Regions from separate parts of the Homo sapiens genome. Here region 1 is linked to region 2. A link means that fine-mapping ties the variant in region 2 to the expression of a gene that starts in the linked region. Tissue or cell type: cerebral cortex. Region 2 holds a variant in brackets; the other region holds the start of a gene. All regions are shown on one strand. Distances are from middle to middle.

Region 1 (8,104 bases), 340 kb before region 2:
AATTGCAATAAGAAGGATGAAAGCAGTAAAAGAGCTAACGTTTATTGATCATTTAACATGCACCAGGCACTTTGCCAAGCACTTTACATATGTATGCTCATTTGGTTAAATGAGGTAATGCATATAAAGTGCTTAGCACAGGACTCCTGAAATGGGAATGATAATGATGATGATGAAGAAATTGATGGGGATTCCCTAGGGCAAATCTCACTGGTTCATCCCCTTCCAGGAAGAACAGAGTGGCCTGTAAGGTTTCAGGAAGGAGGTGAACAAGGAAGAGCTGGGTTTGGAAAGGAGAGAGAAAAGGCACGGGATTAAAAATTAGAGGGTGAATATGTTAATAATGTTGTCAAAATGATACACCAAAAAGAATTCTGGAAAGCAAGGGACCCAAGATGTTCTACAGAAAGGAACCGGATCAAGATGCAACAAAACTGCCATGCCAAAGCCAGGTGTGGTGACATGCACCTGTTGTCCCAGCTATTTGAGAGGCCGAGGTAGGAGGATCACTTGAGCTCAGGGATTTGAGGCTGCAGCTATTTGAGAGGCTGAGGTGGGAAGGTCACTTGAGCTCAGGAATTTGAGGCTGCAGTGGGTTATGATTGCCACTGCACTCCAGCCTGGGCAACACAGTGAGACGCCTATCTCTAAAAAATAAACAATAAATAAACAAAACATGCCAGTCCAGGCACCACCCTGAGTTCCTGACAAGTACAGCTGGCAGGATCCCAGCGAGCCAGACCAATAATGCCTCCCATTTTACAGATGGAAAAACCAAAGCCTAGAGTGTGGAAGAGACTTGCCCCAAATTGCAGGATGTCAGAAGCAGAGCCAGGCTTAAATCCAGGTCTTTTGCCTCTCAGCTCAGTGCCCAACTACCTGCTACTTCCCACAAAGGACAGTCCACAAAGGACAGTGCAGGGGGTCACCTGGATATGTTTGGGCTACAGTGCCACAGACACATCCCATGATATGAATCATTAAGATAATAACAATAAGCTACAGTTTAATGAGTACTCACTCTGTACCTGCCAGAGTGCTAAATTCATTATATGGACTGAGTCCTCACAACAACCCTAAGGATTAGGAACTGTTTTATATTCTCTCTATTTAACAGATGACAAAACTATGTGGCTCAGAGACGGTAAGCAACTTGCCCAAAATTGCATAGCCAGGAAGTGACAGAACCAGGTCTAAAAGCCAGGTCTGTCCTGTCAAACTTCAGAGCCTTAACTACTATCCTACACTTATCCATCTGAAAGGCACAGTCCCTACCTGCTTCCCTTAAACCCCATGGCACCCTCACACCTCACTCCCTCACCCAAATCACATCTATCCCAACTGAGGAAGAATGTTTCGAATTGGCCTGATTCATTGTAACGATTAAACTCCATTTGAGAAAGAAAAATGACACAGTTCCTCCTAAGTTTTCAGCTGAAAGATATTTAACAGCCTCTTTTTTCCCTTCAGTCCCTTGGATGAGAAAACCAAGACTCCCTTCTCCCCTCAGGCTGGTGAATTCCAACATCCCGGGGCACATTATGGAAGCTATCAGGCAGTAGGGGCTCATGGAGGTTAGTGACAACTGGAGGGCCCACTCTGCAATGAGCCCAGATAGTGCAACAGAGCCAAGAGAGCAATTTTCAAGTTCCTCCCGCAAATGATCTTGTGCAACCTTCACAAGCTGCCCAAAGCCACCCAGCCGGGATGTGGGAGAAACCAGAATGCCACCCAGGTCTCATCTAACTCAAGCCTCTAGTGCTGGTGAGCTCCTCTAAGTGGAAGAGTGGGGTTAGCTTAGCAAGGGAGAACTATGGAGGAAGGGAAGTGGGAGGCAGAGAGACACTCTACCACCTTCATTTCTCTCTAGAGCCATGAGCTCCTTCCATGGGGCCCCAGACTTACCAGGGCCAGAACTACTTATTTTATAATTAAGAAGGCAACAGAGGACCTGGCCAACTGCCTGGATTCAAAGCCTGGATCCTGGCTGGATGTGGTGGCTCATGCCTATAATCCCAGCACTTGGGAGGCTGAAGTGGGAGGATGGCTTGACCACAGGAGTTTGAGACCAGCCTGGGCAACAAGAGTGAGACCCACCTCTAAAACACAAAAAAATTAGCTAGGCATGGTGGTGTGCCCCCGTAGTCCCAGGTACTCAGGAGGCTGAGGTGGGAGGATTGTTTGAGCCTGGGAGGTCAAGGCTGTAGTGAGCTATGATTGCACCACTGCACTCTGTCCTGGATGACAGAGTGAGCCCATGTCTCAAACAAAAACAAAAACAAAACCCCCAAAACAAAGCCTGGGTCCTAGTTCCTGTAGAATTCTGGACAAGTTACTTCATAGGGCTGTTAGGATTAAATGAGTTAATACCTGGAAAAGTGCTTCCAAGAGTACCTGACACTTAGTCAAGGGCTCTCCAAAGCTAACCGTTATTATCGCCAACAGAGAATGAGCATGGGACAAACTGCTAACAGGTTCACCTTTGGGGAGGGGTCTAGTTATAGAGAGAAGAAAACTTTTTTTTTTTTTTTGAGACACAGTTTCACTCTGTCGTCCAGGCTGGAGTGCAGCGGCGTGATCTCATCTCACTGTAACCTCCGCCTCCTGGGTTCAAGTGATTCTCATGTCTCAGCCTCTCGAGTAGCTGGGATTACAGATGCGTGCCACCACCCCTAATTTTTGTATTTTCAGCAGTGATGGGGTTTCTTCATGTTGGCCAGGCTGGTCTCGAACCCCTGACCTCAGGTGATCTGCCCATCTCGCCCTCCCAAAGTGCTGGGGTTACAGGCATAAGCCACGATGCCTGGCCTAGAAAACTTACTTTTTATTTATCTGTCCTGTTTGATTATGTATGTATTTATTTTTTACAATATATGTATATTACTTTTCTAATTAAAAAAAACCCCTAGTTTAAAATTAAAAAATTAACAAACACAGAAGAATCCTCTGAAAGGTTTAAACATTTCTTGGCATTTCATGTTCCTCAAAGTAGATAAAGAAAAACAGACAATCTCTGCCCTTCTGGAGTTCCCATTCCACCTGATCTTAATTAATTCCCTCTGCAATCCTCAGGGATAATCATTTTACAGATAAGAAGACTGAGGCCGGCCAGTGGGGGGAAGTCACTTGTCCAGTCTCCCACAGCTGGGAGCAGGGCTACAATCTCCAGAGCTAGGGCTGTTTCCACCACTGCCCAGGCCAGGTCTGTGGATGGCATGTTTGAAGCTGGTGTCCCCAGGAGGAGAGAAGCAAGACGAATGAGGAGGTCTGCATGTCCAGGCTCAAAACTTCACTCTACATTATCATTGGCTCCTGTGGTGGGGAGGGCGTGATGGATGCAGGCAAGAGTGGAAACCCAGAACAAGGAGTCCAGCATGAGGGGGGCTCAGGCTCCTCGCTGCCCACTCTCAGACCTGGGTTCGGCGATGGAGGTCCCCATGCACCTCTGCCTAGAGGAGAAGCACAGCTTCAACCTCCCTAGTTGTTCAATCTCAGCTCTAGGGTAGGTAGGAGACCCCTGCCTCTCCTTAACCACCCTCCCAAATTCCCCTGCCAGGGCCTGATTTGAAGGGCAGTGCTGTTTCTTCTAGTCCACTACAGTCACTCCTCCCTGAGACAAGAACCTGAGTTCCCTATGCTGGGGCTAGGCACAGTGTCCTCAGATGCTCTGGTCCTCCCTAGGGCACCCAAGTGTCCCCATCCCCACTGTTGCTGGCCCCGGCAGAGGAGCTGCTCTGGTGGGTGGAACTGATGACTGATGGAACCCCCATGGCCACAGCGGCCAGACCAAAGCAGGAAGTGTGGTCCAGGCTGGGTCAGGCTGGCCCAGGATCTGGCAGCTCCTGGTGACCCTCTCCAGGGAGGTGGCTCTCCTTTCCCAGGACTGCCCGGTCAGGAAGGTGAAGGGAGGCAGAAACAACACAAAGGATTGGAGGGTTCTTGGAGTCTAAGATCCCAGAACACAGATGAACATGGGCCAGAAATGGTCAGCGATTTAGAGACACACCAAAGAGAAACCCTGAGAGACACACGCCGGAGCAGAGACTTTGTGAGAAACGCTCACACAGGGGTGGTGATCAGAGGCAGAGACCCAGAGGAAGGGAGAGACCCATGCAAACGAGGGATCTAGAGGGAAACACACAGCAGGACCTCAACGGATCCACAGATCAGCCTCAGACACACCCCCAGTCCCAGCAAGCCACCGTCCCACAGCGCATCCCCCAACAGGAGGCCACTTGTACAGTGCGGGCGGGCCGGGGACTCGCGCACAGGACGCACTTGGGGACCGGAGGAGCGCCGGGCACAGCAGCGAGAAGCGCACACAAAGAGACAGCCCGGCCAGCGGGAGCAGGCTCCGCCCGACCGCTCCGAGACTCCAGACCACCCCCCGCCCGGGCACACGCACCAGACACACACACAGAGACACACGCAACCCCACCCGCACGCCCTGGGACCGCGCCCCGCCGCGCCCCACCCTGCCCCGACTGCCTGGGCACGCGACGCTTACCAGCTGCAGGCAGCAGAAGGCGACCAGCGTGCAGCGCCCGCTGCACTTGCCCATGGCTCCGGGGGCTGCGCGGGCCGCACGCCGCGGCGCCCTTCTTGCTCCGCGGCCGCCGCCTGCTCGCGCCGCGCGGGCTCCACGTCCTCCCCGCTGGGCGCGCCGGGCGGCGGGGCCGGGCGCCTAGGGCCGGGCCCGGGAGTGTCCGGTCCCCAAGGCTGGGGCCGGCCGCCCGCGCTCCGAGTCCATGGTCCGTCCGTCCGCGCGCTGGCCCCGCCGAGCCGCGCCTCCTTTGTCTAGCGGGCCGTCCGTCAGGCGCGCCTCCTGCCCCGGGGCGGCTGGCGGGGAGCGCGGAGCAAGGAGAGCGAGCCCCGAGCGCGGCGCAGCGCAGAGCAGCACTGCCCAGCTGGGGCAGTCGCCCGGGCTCTCGTCGGCCGCGGCTTCCCGGCCCCACCACGTGGCTCCGCCGCCGCCACCGACAGGGAGGGAGTTGGGGGGAACGGCAGAGGGGTGGGGCGGGGGAGCCGCCGGAGGGGAGGGGAGAGGGATAGGGAGGTGGAGGGTTGGAGAGGCAGGGAGTGAAGTGGAAGAGTGCGTGCGGGCTTAGGGGACAACAGCCCTGAGTCAAATCCAGACTTTGCTGCTCACTCGCTGTGTGACCTTGGGCAAATCACGTCACCTCTCTGGACCTGTTTTCTCATGAACAAAGTAGGAATAATTATGCCTCTTTAGTGTAGATATGAAGATGAAATGCAGTCATGTGAATAAAGCGCTTAGCCCTGTGCCTGGCCTCCTGGCTTGGAACACTTTTTTGTCCACCCTGTCTCTAGGGCTCCAGGGTTCCAACTTGGACTTCTAGTTCTATTTACGTTCCCAGATCTGCTCCTCACCCCAGCCTCTCCCCTGAGTGTCTGGCCACATTTTTCGCCTTCCTTCTTTCCGTCTACTGGCATTTATTGAGCCCTGACTGCATACACACCCCTGGGGGCCCTGCGAGCCAGAGATGAGACCTGCAACACTGTTCCAAATCCCGTAGAGCTGCACCGCCCAGGGAACAGATAGGCTCCCAAGAGCACGCCAGTGAGATGGGTGATGGCAGAGATCTGCCCAGGTGGAGGTAGGGAGCCCCTACCCTGGGCTGCAGTAGGGACAGAGTCAGAAGTTTCCCAGCAGAAGATTGCCTTCTCCAAGCCACCCCCAAAAGCCCTCGAACTGGACACATCTCAAATCCACATAATCATTCCTGTCCCACTCCTAACTTCCTATATTCACCTTGGCAATTAGCATCACCCAAGTGGAATTTCCTAGGTCATCCTCCAGGCTTCCCTACAATTACATCTGATCTGTCACTACATTCTATAAACTGTACTTTCCAACTAACATTTATGAAATACCCACTATGTGCCAGGTTCTCTGCTGGGGATAAGGGAACAAAACCCGACAAAATCTCTGCCCTCATTGAGCACACAGTCTAGTGAGGGATTGTCATTAAAACAAGGAAATATACAAATAAATACGCAAAGTTCTGATGAATACTCTAAAGAATATTAAAGAAGAAACGTGGCACGGTGGCTCACACCTGTAATTTCAGCACTTTGGGAGGCTGAATCAGCTCACTGCAACCTCCACCTGAGTGGAGATCGGCCTCCCAAAAGTGAGTGGATCACCTGAGTTCAGGAGTTCGAGACCAGCCTGGCCAACGTGGTGAAACCCCATCTCTACTAAAAATACAAAAATTAGGCAGGGATGGTATCAGGCACCTGTAATCCCAGCTACTCAGGAGGTTGAGGCAGGAGAATCGCTTGAACCCGGGAGGTGGAGGTTGCAGTGAGCCAAGACCATGCTATTGCACTTTAGCCTAGGCGACAAAAGCGAAACTCTGTCAAAATAAATAAATAATAAATAAAATACTAAGGGAGAAAAGAGAGAATGAGAGGGGCATAATTTAGGTTTGGGGACCAGGAAACACCTCTTTGAGGAAACGAAACTGATACTGAGACGACAATAGGAAGGAAGGAGAGGCAGGGGAGTGAAGAGTGTTCTGGTGGAAGAAACAGAAGGTTCTTATTCTTTCCCTTCCTCTCCACTCTCACTAGCCCTCTTGATTCGAGAGACAGGAAGTATGGTAAGATGTAGGTTAGGACCCGTGGTTTTGGACCCAAACGGCCTGGGTCCCGGTTCCAGCACTGTCACTTGTTTGCTGCTCACATAGTAAGCATGCAAATAAATGTGTCACTGTTTTCTTCCAGGACTGGCTACATAGTTTGGGGGGCCCAGCACAAAATGAAGATGCAGCACTTCTTGTTAAAAAATTAAGAATTTCGGCCAGACGCAGTGGCTCATGCCTATAATCCCAGCACTTGGGAGGCCTGGCCAGATGACAAGGTCAGGCGTTCGAGACCAGCCTGACCAACATGGAAAAACCCTGTCTCTACTAAAAATACAAAAAATAATTAGATAGGTGTGGTGGCACATGCCTGTAATTCGCAGCTACTCAGGAGGCTGAAGTGGGAGAATTGCTTGAACCCAGGAGGCAGAGGTTGTGGTGAGCTGAGATCACCCCACTGCACTCCAGCCTGGGGCAACAAGAGCAAAACTCCATCTAAAAAAAAAAAAAAAATTAAGAATTTCAAGATGGCAACACAGCAGAGCGTGAAGTCAAGAACATGCAGGGGGCCGGGCGCTGTGGCTTACGCTATAATCCCAGGACTCTGGGAGGCCAAGGCAGGCGGATCACTTAAGGTCAGGAGTTCAAGATCAACCTAGCCAACATGGCAAAACCCCATCTCTACTAAAAATACAATAATTAGGCCAGGCGTGGTGGCTTATACCTGTAATCCCAGCACTTTGGGAGGCCAAGGCGGGCAGATAATCAGGAGATCGAGACCATCCTGTCCAACATGGTGAAACCCCATCTCTACTAAAATACAAAAAATTATCCAGGCGTGGTGGTGCATGCCTGTAATCCCAGCTACTAGGGAGGTTGGGGCAGGGGAATCGCTTGAACCCAGGAGACGGAGATTGCAGTGATCCAAGGTCACGCCACTGTACTCCAGCCTAGTGACAGAGTGAGACTCCATCTCAAAAAATAAAAATTAAAAAAATACAAAAATTAGCTGGGCGTGGTGGCATGTGCCTGCAATCCCAGCTACTTGGGAGGTTGAGGCATGAGAATTGCTTGAACCCAGGAGATGGAGGTTGCAGTGAGCTGAGATTGTGCCACTGCACTCCAGCCTGGGTGACAGAGTGAAACGGTGTCTCAAAAAAACAAAGAACAGAAAACAAAACATGCAGGGTCCTGTGTGACTGCAGAGGTCACATGCCCATGAAGCCAATTGTGTCTTCTCCCTGGACTTTAAGGTGGGTCTCTTTGGCCGGGCGTGGTGGCTCACACCTGTAATCCCTGCACTTTGGGAGGCTGAGTCGGGTGTATCACCTGAGATCGGAGTTTGAGACCAGGCTGGCCAACATGATGAAACCCTGTCTCTACTAAAAATACAAAAAATTAGCTTGATGTGGTGGCAGGCGCCTGTAGTCCCAGCTACTCAGGAGGCTGAGGCAGGAGAAATCACTTGAACACGGGAGGCGGAGGTTGCACTGAGC
Region 2 (8,104 bases):
GTTCCTTCCCACAGTTCCATGGGGCTTGGGCCGGCAGACTGCATACCTGAGCTGTCATCTCAAGAGTGCTGTGTTATCTTAGGACGGTTGCTTACCTTCTCTGGGCCTTGGCTTCCCCATGCTCCTCCCACTCCCCATCTCCAAGCCCTAACTTATTTAAATGGAAAAGGATCCCAGGAATGTTGTGGCTGGCATCCAAGTAAAGTAAGAGGAATCCAGGTTGGAATCATTGAAGAACTTCCCAAACAGCAGTTGGTGTGTGACCCTGCAGGATTTGTCTTCAGTTATAGTTTAATTTCAGTGAGAGCTGGTGTGTGTGTGTGTGTGTGTGTGTGTGTGTGTGATGTCTTCAGTTATAGCTTAATTTCAGTGAGAGCTGGTGTGTGTGTGTGTGTGTGTGATATCTTCAGTTATAGTTTGGCTTCAATTTCAGTGAGAGCTGGTATGTGTGTGTGTGTGTGTGTGATGCCTTCAGTTATAGTTTAATTTTAGTGACAGCTGGTGTGTGTGTGTGTGTGTGTGTGTGATGTCTTCAGTTATAGTTTAATTTCAGTGAGAGCTGGTATGTGTGTGTGTGTGTGTGATGTCTTCAGTTATAGCTTAATTTCAGTGAGAGCTGGTGTGTGTGTGTGTGTGTGTTGTCTTCAGTATAGCTTAATTTCAGTGAGAGCTGGTGTGTGTGTGTGTGATGTCTTCAGTTATAGTTTAATTTCAGTGAGAGCTGGTGTGTGTGTGTGTGTGTGTGTGTGTGATGTCTTCAGTTATAGCTTAATCTCAGTGAGAGCTGGTGTGTGTGTGTGTGTGTGATGTCTTCAGTTATAGTTTAATTTCAGTGAGAGCTGGTGTGTGTGTGTGTGATGTCTTCAGTTATAGTTTAATTTCAGTGAGAGCTGGTGTGTGTGTGTGTGATGTCTTCAGTTATAGCTTAATCTCAGTGAGAGCTGGTGTGTGTGTGTGTGTGTGTGATATCTTCAGTTATAGTTTGGCTTCAATTTCAGTGAGAGCTGGTATGTGTGTGTGTGTGTGTGTGATGCCTTCAGTTATAGTTTAATTTTAGTGACAGCTGGTGTGTGTGTGTGTGTGTGTGTGTGATGTCTTCAGTTATAGTTTAATTTCAGTGAGAGCTGGTATGTGTGTGTGTGTGTGAGACAGAGAGAGAGAAAGAGAGAGAATCTTGGAAAGGTTCAAGGTACCTGACCTCCAAGGACCTGGCCAATTAGCCCATCCTCTCTGGTTCTGGTTCCACTTCTCTTCTCTTCCCTTCCAACAGGATGTATGCATGGAGGTCGTATCTATCCAGTCTTGGGAACGTACTGGGACAACTGTAACCGTTGGTGAGTGTTTGGAGCTTAGAGGGGTCTTGCTTTGTGAGCCTGTGGCTGACAGACTTGGTTCAAATCTTATCCCTGACCCCTTTTGCAAGGGAGAAGTCTTTTCCCTTCTTTGAACCTCAGTTTCCTCATCTGCAATAGAGGAATTTTAACACTGACCAAGTCAACTTATCTAACATCATTCCAACAACATTCCTCAAGCATGGCCAGCCATGGGTGCCTGGCCCAGGGGTCACCCTTGAACTGAGATCCTTCCCCACCCCTCCTGGCTTGGGCTGGGCTATTCCTCCCAGCTATTCCTGCTGTCACTGCAGAGTCAGAGGGAGAAGGGGGCGCCAGGAAGGAAAGCTCTGACTGCAGCATCCGCTGCCCTGAGCGGATGAGGGTCAGGGATGGCTGAGCGGGCGGCCAGCCAGCCTCTAGCAGGGCCTTCCCTGAAATGTGGCCCCTTTTTCCTTCCCCACCCCTCCCCACCATTCCCAGTAGGAGGAGGAAGGGGTCATGGGTACCCCCCTATTCAGTCTGAGATGGGAAGTGGAGAAGGGCCAGGTAGGAAACCCTGAAAGCCTTAATAGAAATAATGGGGAGCCTGCGACTTGGAGGAGGCGGCCCTGCACCCACTCCACCCCCACTCCCTCTTTGCCTGGGACTAAGAGGCCCCAGAGAGAAGGAAACTTTTTGGAATGCATTGCGCATAAGATATTTCCATTGCCTCACTAGGGTGAGGGGTGCCCGGGTCACAGTGAGGGAGGGAACGTTTCAGCATGTGTCTGGGTGTTCAGCGTGACTGTGTGTGCACTGTGTGTGTGTGTGTGTGTGTGTTCAAAAGGATAAAACATGCCTGGCCCGCGTCTGCAGGTTCTGATAGGATGGCTCTGGACGTTGAGGGGTTAATGCGCTCTCTCTCTCTCTCTCTCTCTCTCTCTCTCTCTCTCTCTCTCTCTCTCTGTCTCTCTCTCTCTGTCTCTCTCTGTCTCTCTCTCTCTGTCTCTCTCTCTCTCACTGCTGTCCCTGGCCCCTTAGGCCCCCTCTGGAATGCTGGGACCTGCTACCACCGGCCCTGCCTGGACCTGTGTGGGCAGCCCTGGGGGCAAAGGAGGAGATGGCAGGAAAGGACAGAACAGTCTACTGCCCTCTCCTCATGAAGGCTCTGGGGGCGAGGGTGGGGGAGTGTCCAGGGTGTCAGAGCCCTCAAAGGATGCTTCCAGAGTCTAGTCGGGTGCTGCTGCCTAGGTGTGCAGAGGGGGAACAGCCTGGTGTGCAGAGAGGGAAAGGAAGGATGAGGAAAGCCTTCCCGGCCCTGCAGACTCCTCTGGCCCTCCCCAGCAGTGCCCCCGCCTCTCCTGGGGCTGGAAAGCCCAGCCATACTGGGTCTTGGCTCCCCTTGAGGCTCCTTAAAAGGCAACATTGGAGGTGGGAGCCTTGGACAGCTTGCAAGGAGGCAGTTCAGCATCTTGTAATAACAGAGTTATGAGCTTGTAAAAGCATTATAGAATTCATAGAATGCAGCCCTTCAGTCGGCACCTATTATTAAAGACCTACTGCGTGACAGGCACTATGCTGAGCTCAGGAGATGGAGCGGGAATGCAACAGACACAGTCCTTGTCCCATTTCTAGTGTAAGGTGAAGGGCATGGGAAGACAACAAATGAGTATATTCTGACAAGCTGCCCAGTGTTATAGGGAAAAGAGAGGATAACGGGGGTCCCAGTTTAGAGTAGGGAGTGGGTGGGAAAGCTACTCTGAGGAAGGGACATTTATGCTGAGACCAGGGAGAAGGATAGGAGAGGCCTGGCCTAGGCAGAGGGAGTGGCTCGTGGGAAGGCCGGGAGGTGACTGAGCTCATTTTAGCTGGAGCTGGGGTAGGGGAGAGACGTCCCAAGGAGGTGCAGGCCACGTTCCGTGGCTCACATCAGCTGTGCCCAGGATTCTGCATTTTGTTTGGAGTCACAGGAAGCCACGTAGAGAGCACACGGTCTGATTTACGTTCTTCAAAGATCTCTCTGGCTTTGGGGTGGGTAGGGAGGGGATGGCCGGGAATTTTAAGGGGTAGCAGACTTGGTGAATAAGGCAGTGCCGGGGTCCAGGTGAGAGGTGATGAGGGACGGGAGTAGGGTGGCCACAGTGGAGGGGCGAGAGGTAGGTGGATTCCTCATGTGCCATCTCCAAGCCCTGCTGATGGGGGACATGTGGGCGGACACCACAGACCACCTGGAGCTCTGATGTGAACAACTGGGTGCCATTTTCAGAGTTGAAGATGTTAGGAAAGAGCAGGCTTGTGGGAGGCAGACGGGCTATTTTGAGTTTGAGATGCCTTTTGCACATCCAGAGATGTCAGAAGGTCAGTGGGATATGAGTCTGAAGCTCTAGAGAAGTGGGGTCTGGGATTCCTGTAACAGAATGGTGATAGTAGATATTAATTCTGAGCACTTAATGATGGACCAGGCCCAGTGCTAAATGCTTTACAAGCCTATCATTAAATCCCTGGAAAGTGGTACCACTGTATTATCCTCATTTTATAGACAAGGGCATTGAGAGAGACAGAGCTTGAATGATTCTCCTAAGATCACACAGCCAGTGGGCTGAAACCCAGAATCTGAATTCCAGAACCCATGCTCTTAGTCAATTCAGCATATGGCCTCAGTCATTGACTCAGTTAACAAATATTCATTGGGTGCTTACTATGTGCTAGGCTTTGTTTTCCTAGGCGCTGAAAATACCAAACAATACCTGCCCTCAAGGAATTTACAGCCTATGAGGAAACAGGGATAAGCAATATAAACAGGCCGGGCCTGTGGCTCACACCTGTAAATCTCAGCACTTTGGAAGGCCAAGGCGGGTGGATCACTTGAGGCCAGGAATTTGAGACCAGCCTGGGCAACATAGCAAAACCCCATCTCTACAAAAATTGCAAAATTTAGCTGGGTGTGGTGGTGCACTTGTAGTCTCAGCTATTTAGGAGGCTGAGGTGGGAGGGCCACTTGAGCCTGGGAAGCAGAGACTGCAGTGAGCCGAGATCACACCACTGCATTCCAGCCTGGGCAACAGAGCAAGACCCTGTCTCAAAAAAAAAAGCGGGGAGGAAGGGGAGCAGGCAGATTGGTGTGAACCATCAG[G/C]GGCCAGCCTAGTTGGAGCCTTAGAACCAGAACTTGAAGGAGGAGGGGATCAGGGGACAGGAGGACAGAGCGTGCAGGGCCTTGTTGTCACCAAACTTTGGCTCTTATTCTGTGATGTGAAGCCAGTGGAGGGTTTTGGGCAGAGGAACGACATGATATGACTTAGGTTTAGCAGGGTCACTCTGGCAGCTGTGTTAAAAATACCCTGGGAAGCAGGGCAAGGGGCAGATGCATGGAGCACCCACAGTGAGGAGGCCACAGCAGGAATCCAGGTGAGAGGTGATCGGACTTGGGCGGGCTGCAGGAGAGAATGAGAGTGGTTCGGATTCTGGATGCATTTTTAAGGTAGACCCATAGGATATGCGGATGAACTGGATCAGCATGGGAAAGGAAGTCAGCGGGGACTGCCAGGTTTGGGGCCCAAACTCCAGGAAGGATAGAGTTGCCGTTTTCTGAGAACTGTAGGGGGAATAAGTGAGGGGGGTCAGGAATTCGGTTCAGGGAGTGTTTTGGTTCAGGGTAGTGATGTTGAGTAGCCGTGAGATCCTTGACTCTGGTGTTCAGGCAGAGATCTGGGCCACAGATATAAACTTGAGAATCATGAACTAGACGTTGACATTTAAAGCCACCAGGCTGGATGGGATCACCTAGAGATTCTCCCACAGTCACTTGCACAGACTCCCTGGCCCATGTTAACCTCCGAGGCCACATTCCTTCAAAGTATCCCCAGTCCCCCACTTACCCTTTCCTTCTCTCCTTTTCTCACCAGCACCTGCCAGGAGAACAGGCAGTGGCAGTGTGACCAAGAACCATGCCTGGTGGATCCAGACATGATCAAAGCCATCAACCAGGGCAACTATGGGTGAGAGGCCCTAGAGGCACCCTCAGTGGGCACACATGCATACTCATGCATGTATACACGCATGCTGTGCTGTGGGGCACGTCCAGCAGGCCACTCCTACACCCAGATTTGACTGTGTGTGCGCTCAGCCACTGTGCGTCTCTCCCACCCACATGCACCCACGCCAAGGACCCTGAGCCTCGGCAGATCTGTGACTTCCTTCCGTCCCCTCTCCTTCAGCTGGCAGGCTGGGAACCACAGCGCCTTCTGGGGCATGACCCTGGATGAGGGCATTCGCTACCGCCTGGGCACCATCCGCCCATCTTCCTCGGTCATGAACATGCATGAAATTTATGTAAGTCCATCCTTCCCCACAATGCTGCCATCTCCCCATGGCTCAGAACCTCAGGGATGCTGGCCCTGTGCCCTGCTCCTCCAAGGGCCTGGACCATCCCCTACTACAAGGCTGTGTGTCCCTGGACAAGTTACTCCCCTTCTCTGGGCCTCTGTTCCCTGCTTCCACAGGATGTGCTGTGCTGGAAGAACTGATGCTCAGATTGAATTTCGTGGTCTTGGCATCAGCTCCCCCCTGATCTCTCCAGCCTGGGAAAAATGCTGTTGGTCTCAGTACAGCTGGGTTAGGGCCCAAGGGGACAGGGGGTCACCTTGGTATTTTGGGAAGGGAAGGACACACACTCCTCCAGTTCTGGCCAGAGGGCAGCAGTTCTCGGAAATAAATGCCGGTTCAGCGGAACCCCAAGGGAGGAGAGGGCTTCTCCCTTCCCACCAGTGGGACCCTCTGGGAGAGGAATGAAAACCAGGCCCAAAGTGAAAGGGTGAGGAAGGGGAGCTTCAGCAGGCCTGGACCGGGACATGTGCCGGAGCATTTGTCCATCAGTGGCAGGCAGCGGGGAGGCAGGGGCTGGCAGGAGTGGCCCTCCCTGCGGAGACTTCGGCCTTGGGTGACCAGACCCTGGCCCTGCCCTTATTCCCCTGGGCCTCTGGCTATTTTCTGCCTCTTGCTGTTTGTGTTGGCAGACTGCCTGGTCACGGGACCCTACTGCCTCTTCCCTCCCCTGAGGGAAAGCTAAGGCCTGAAGAAAGCTAAGGCCGATCAGAAGGTGCAGAGGAAAGAGGCAGGGGTTGAGAATGGAAAGCTGAGGGACCTGGCCTGGCCACTTCTCTGTGCCTGGCCTCAGCTGCCTCATCTGGGAAGCAGGACTAGTCACCACCGCCACCCCGCCCCGCCCCACCACCTGATACCTGGGAGGCACTAAATGGTGCTTGGTTCTTCAACACAAGTCAAAATTGGAGGCAGCTGGAATCCTGCAGCAGCAGGAGGGCTCAAGATTAAACTGCAGAAGGCCCTGGACTTGGTGGCCCTCCAGTGCCAATGGGCACCTGAGGGGCAGGCCAGGGCAGAGCAGGAGGCAGACAGGGCAACCTTTATCTTGCAGACAGTGCTGAACCCAGGGGAGGTGCTTCCCACAGCCTTCGAGGCCTCTGAGAAGTGGCCCAACCTGATTCATGAGCCTCTTGACCAAGGCAACTGTGCAGGCTCCTGGGCCTTCTCCACAGCAGGTAAGCCAAGGGCAAGGGCTGGCGCCTGGGAGAGGAGGGCCAAGTCCTGAGCCTCCCGACAGCCCCTCTATCTCACCCCACCAGCTGTGGCATCCGATCGTGTCTCAATCCATTCTCTGGGACACATGACGCCTGTCCTGTCGCCCCAGAACCTGCTGTCTTGTGACACCCACCAGCAGCAGGGCTGCCGCGGTGGGCGTCTCGATGGTGCCTGGTGGTTCCTGCGTCGCCGAGGGTATGCAGCAACAGGGGATGTGGGCAGAGAAGAGGGCAAGGAGCTCCGTGGGCATGGCCTGGGCCATGATGCACTGAGTCTTTCTGCCTTTGCTCCCTCTTGCTGCCTTTGCAGGGTGGTGTCTGACCACTGCTACCCCTTCTCGGGCCGTGAACGAGACGAGGCTGGCCCTGCGCCCCCCTGTATGATGCACAGCCGAGCCATGGGTCGGGGCAAGCGCCAGGCCACTGCCCACTGCCCCAACAGCTATGTTAATAACAATGACATCTACCAGGTCACTCCTGTCTACCGCCTCGGCTCCAACGTAAGTCAGCACTTGGGTGAGGGCGCCGAGGCAGGAGGGTTGTGAAAGCCTGGAGTCTCACCCCTGACGTATGCTCTCTGTCCATCCCCTGCCCTCCAGGACAAGGAGATCATGAAGGAGCTGATGGAGAATGGCCCTGTCCAAGGTAAACCCCCTTATCCAGCACCCTGGTTCCAGAAGCTTGTGCCTGCTTGAGAGTGGGCACAGTAGCACAAGTGGCCTGCACAGCATTCAGCAGCATGTCCAGTAGGGCCAGGAGTAGGGGTCCCCCCCTCCCACAGGCAGCACCTGGAGGGAGCACTTAGAGCTTTGGTATGGAGGGACCCTGGTGCCTGGGCACATCTCAATAGACTCAGGCTCCAGTGCCTGTGCCAACGGGCTGAGTGGACCCTACCTTGACATCTGCCCACAGCCCTCATGGAGGTGCATGAGGACTTCTTCCTATACAAGGGAGGCATCTACAGCCACACGCCAGTGAGCCTTGGGAGGCCAGAGAGATACCGCCGGCATGGGACCCACTCAGTCAAGATCACAGGGTGAGGGGCGTGTGGGCAGAGGGGGTTTGGGACAGCAGGGTTTGTGCTAGGGGCTCTGGAGCCTGCCTTGGGTTCTTACAACCTCTCTAAAAAGCCAGGACTGCTCTCATCATTTCAATAGGGAGAAAACTGAGACTCAGAAAGAGAAAGGACTTGCCCTG

The links. PIP is the estimated chance that this variant, and not a neighbour inherited with it, causes the effect.
Region 1: NKAIN1 starts here. The variant in region 2 is fine-mapped to the expression of NKAIN1 in cerebral cortex (GTEx, PIP 0.96).

What each region holds. Positions count from the first base shown.
Region 1 is chr1:31,234,987-31,243,090 of GRCh38, forward strand. NKAIN1 (sodium/potassium transporting ATPase interacting 1) reads right to left here and starts at 4,901. Exons shown (of 7, transcript NM_024522.3): 1 at 4,508-4,901. The coding sequence starts at 4,561.
Region 2 is chr1:31,577,934-31,586,037 of GRCh38, forward strand. It overlaps TINAGL1 (tubulointerstitial nephritis antigen like 1), which reads left to right. Exons shown (of 12, transcript NM_022164.3): 3 at 1,271-1,334; 4 at 5,216-5,308; 5 at 5,528-5,642; 6 at 6,745-6,868; 7 at 6,953-7,103; 8 at 7,218-7,407; 9 at 7,507-7,552; 10 at 7,820-7,943. Among named protein-coding and RNA genes, the nearest start is that of TINAGL1, 5.5 kb to the left of the region's middle. The variant G/C (reference allele first, on the strand shown) is at 4,447.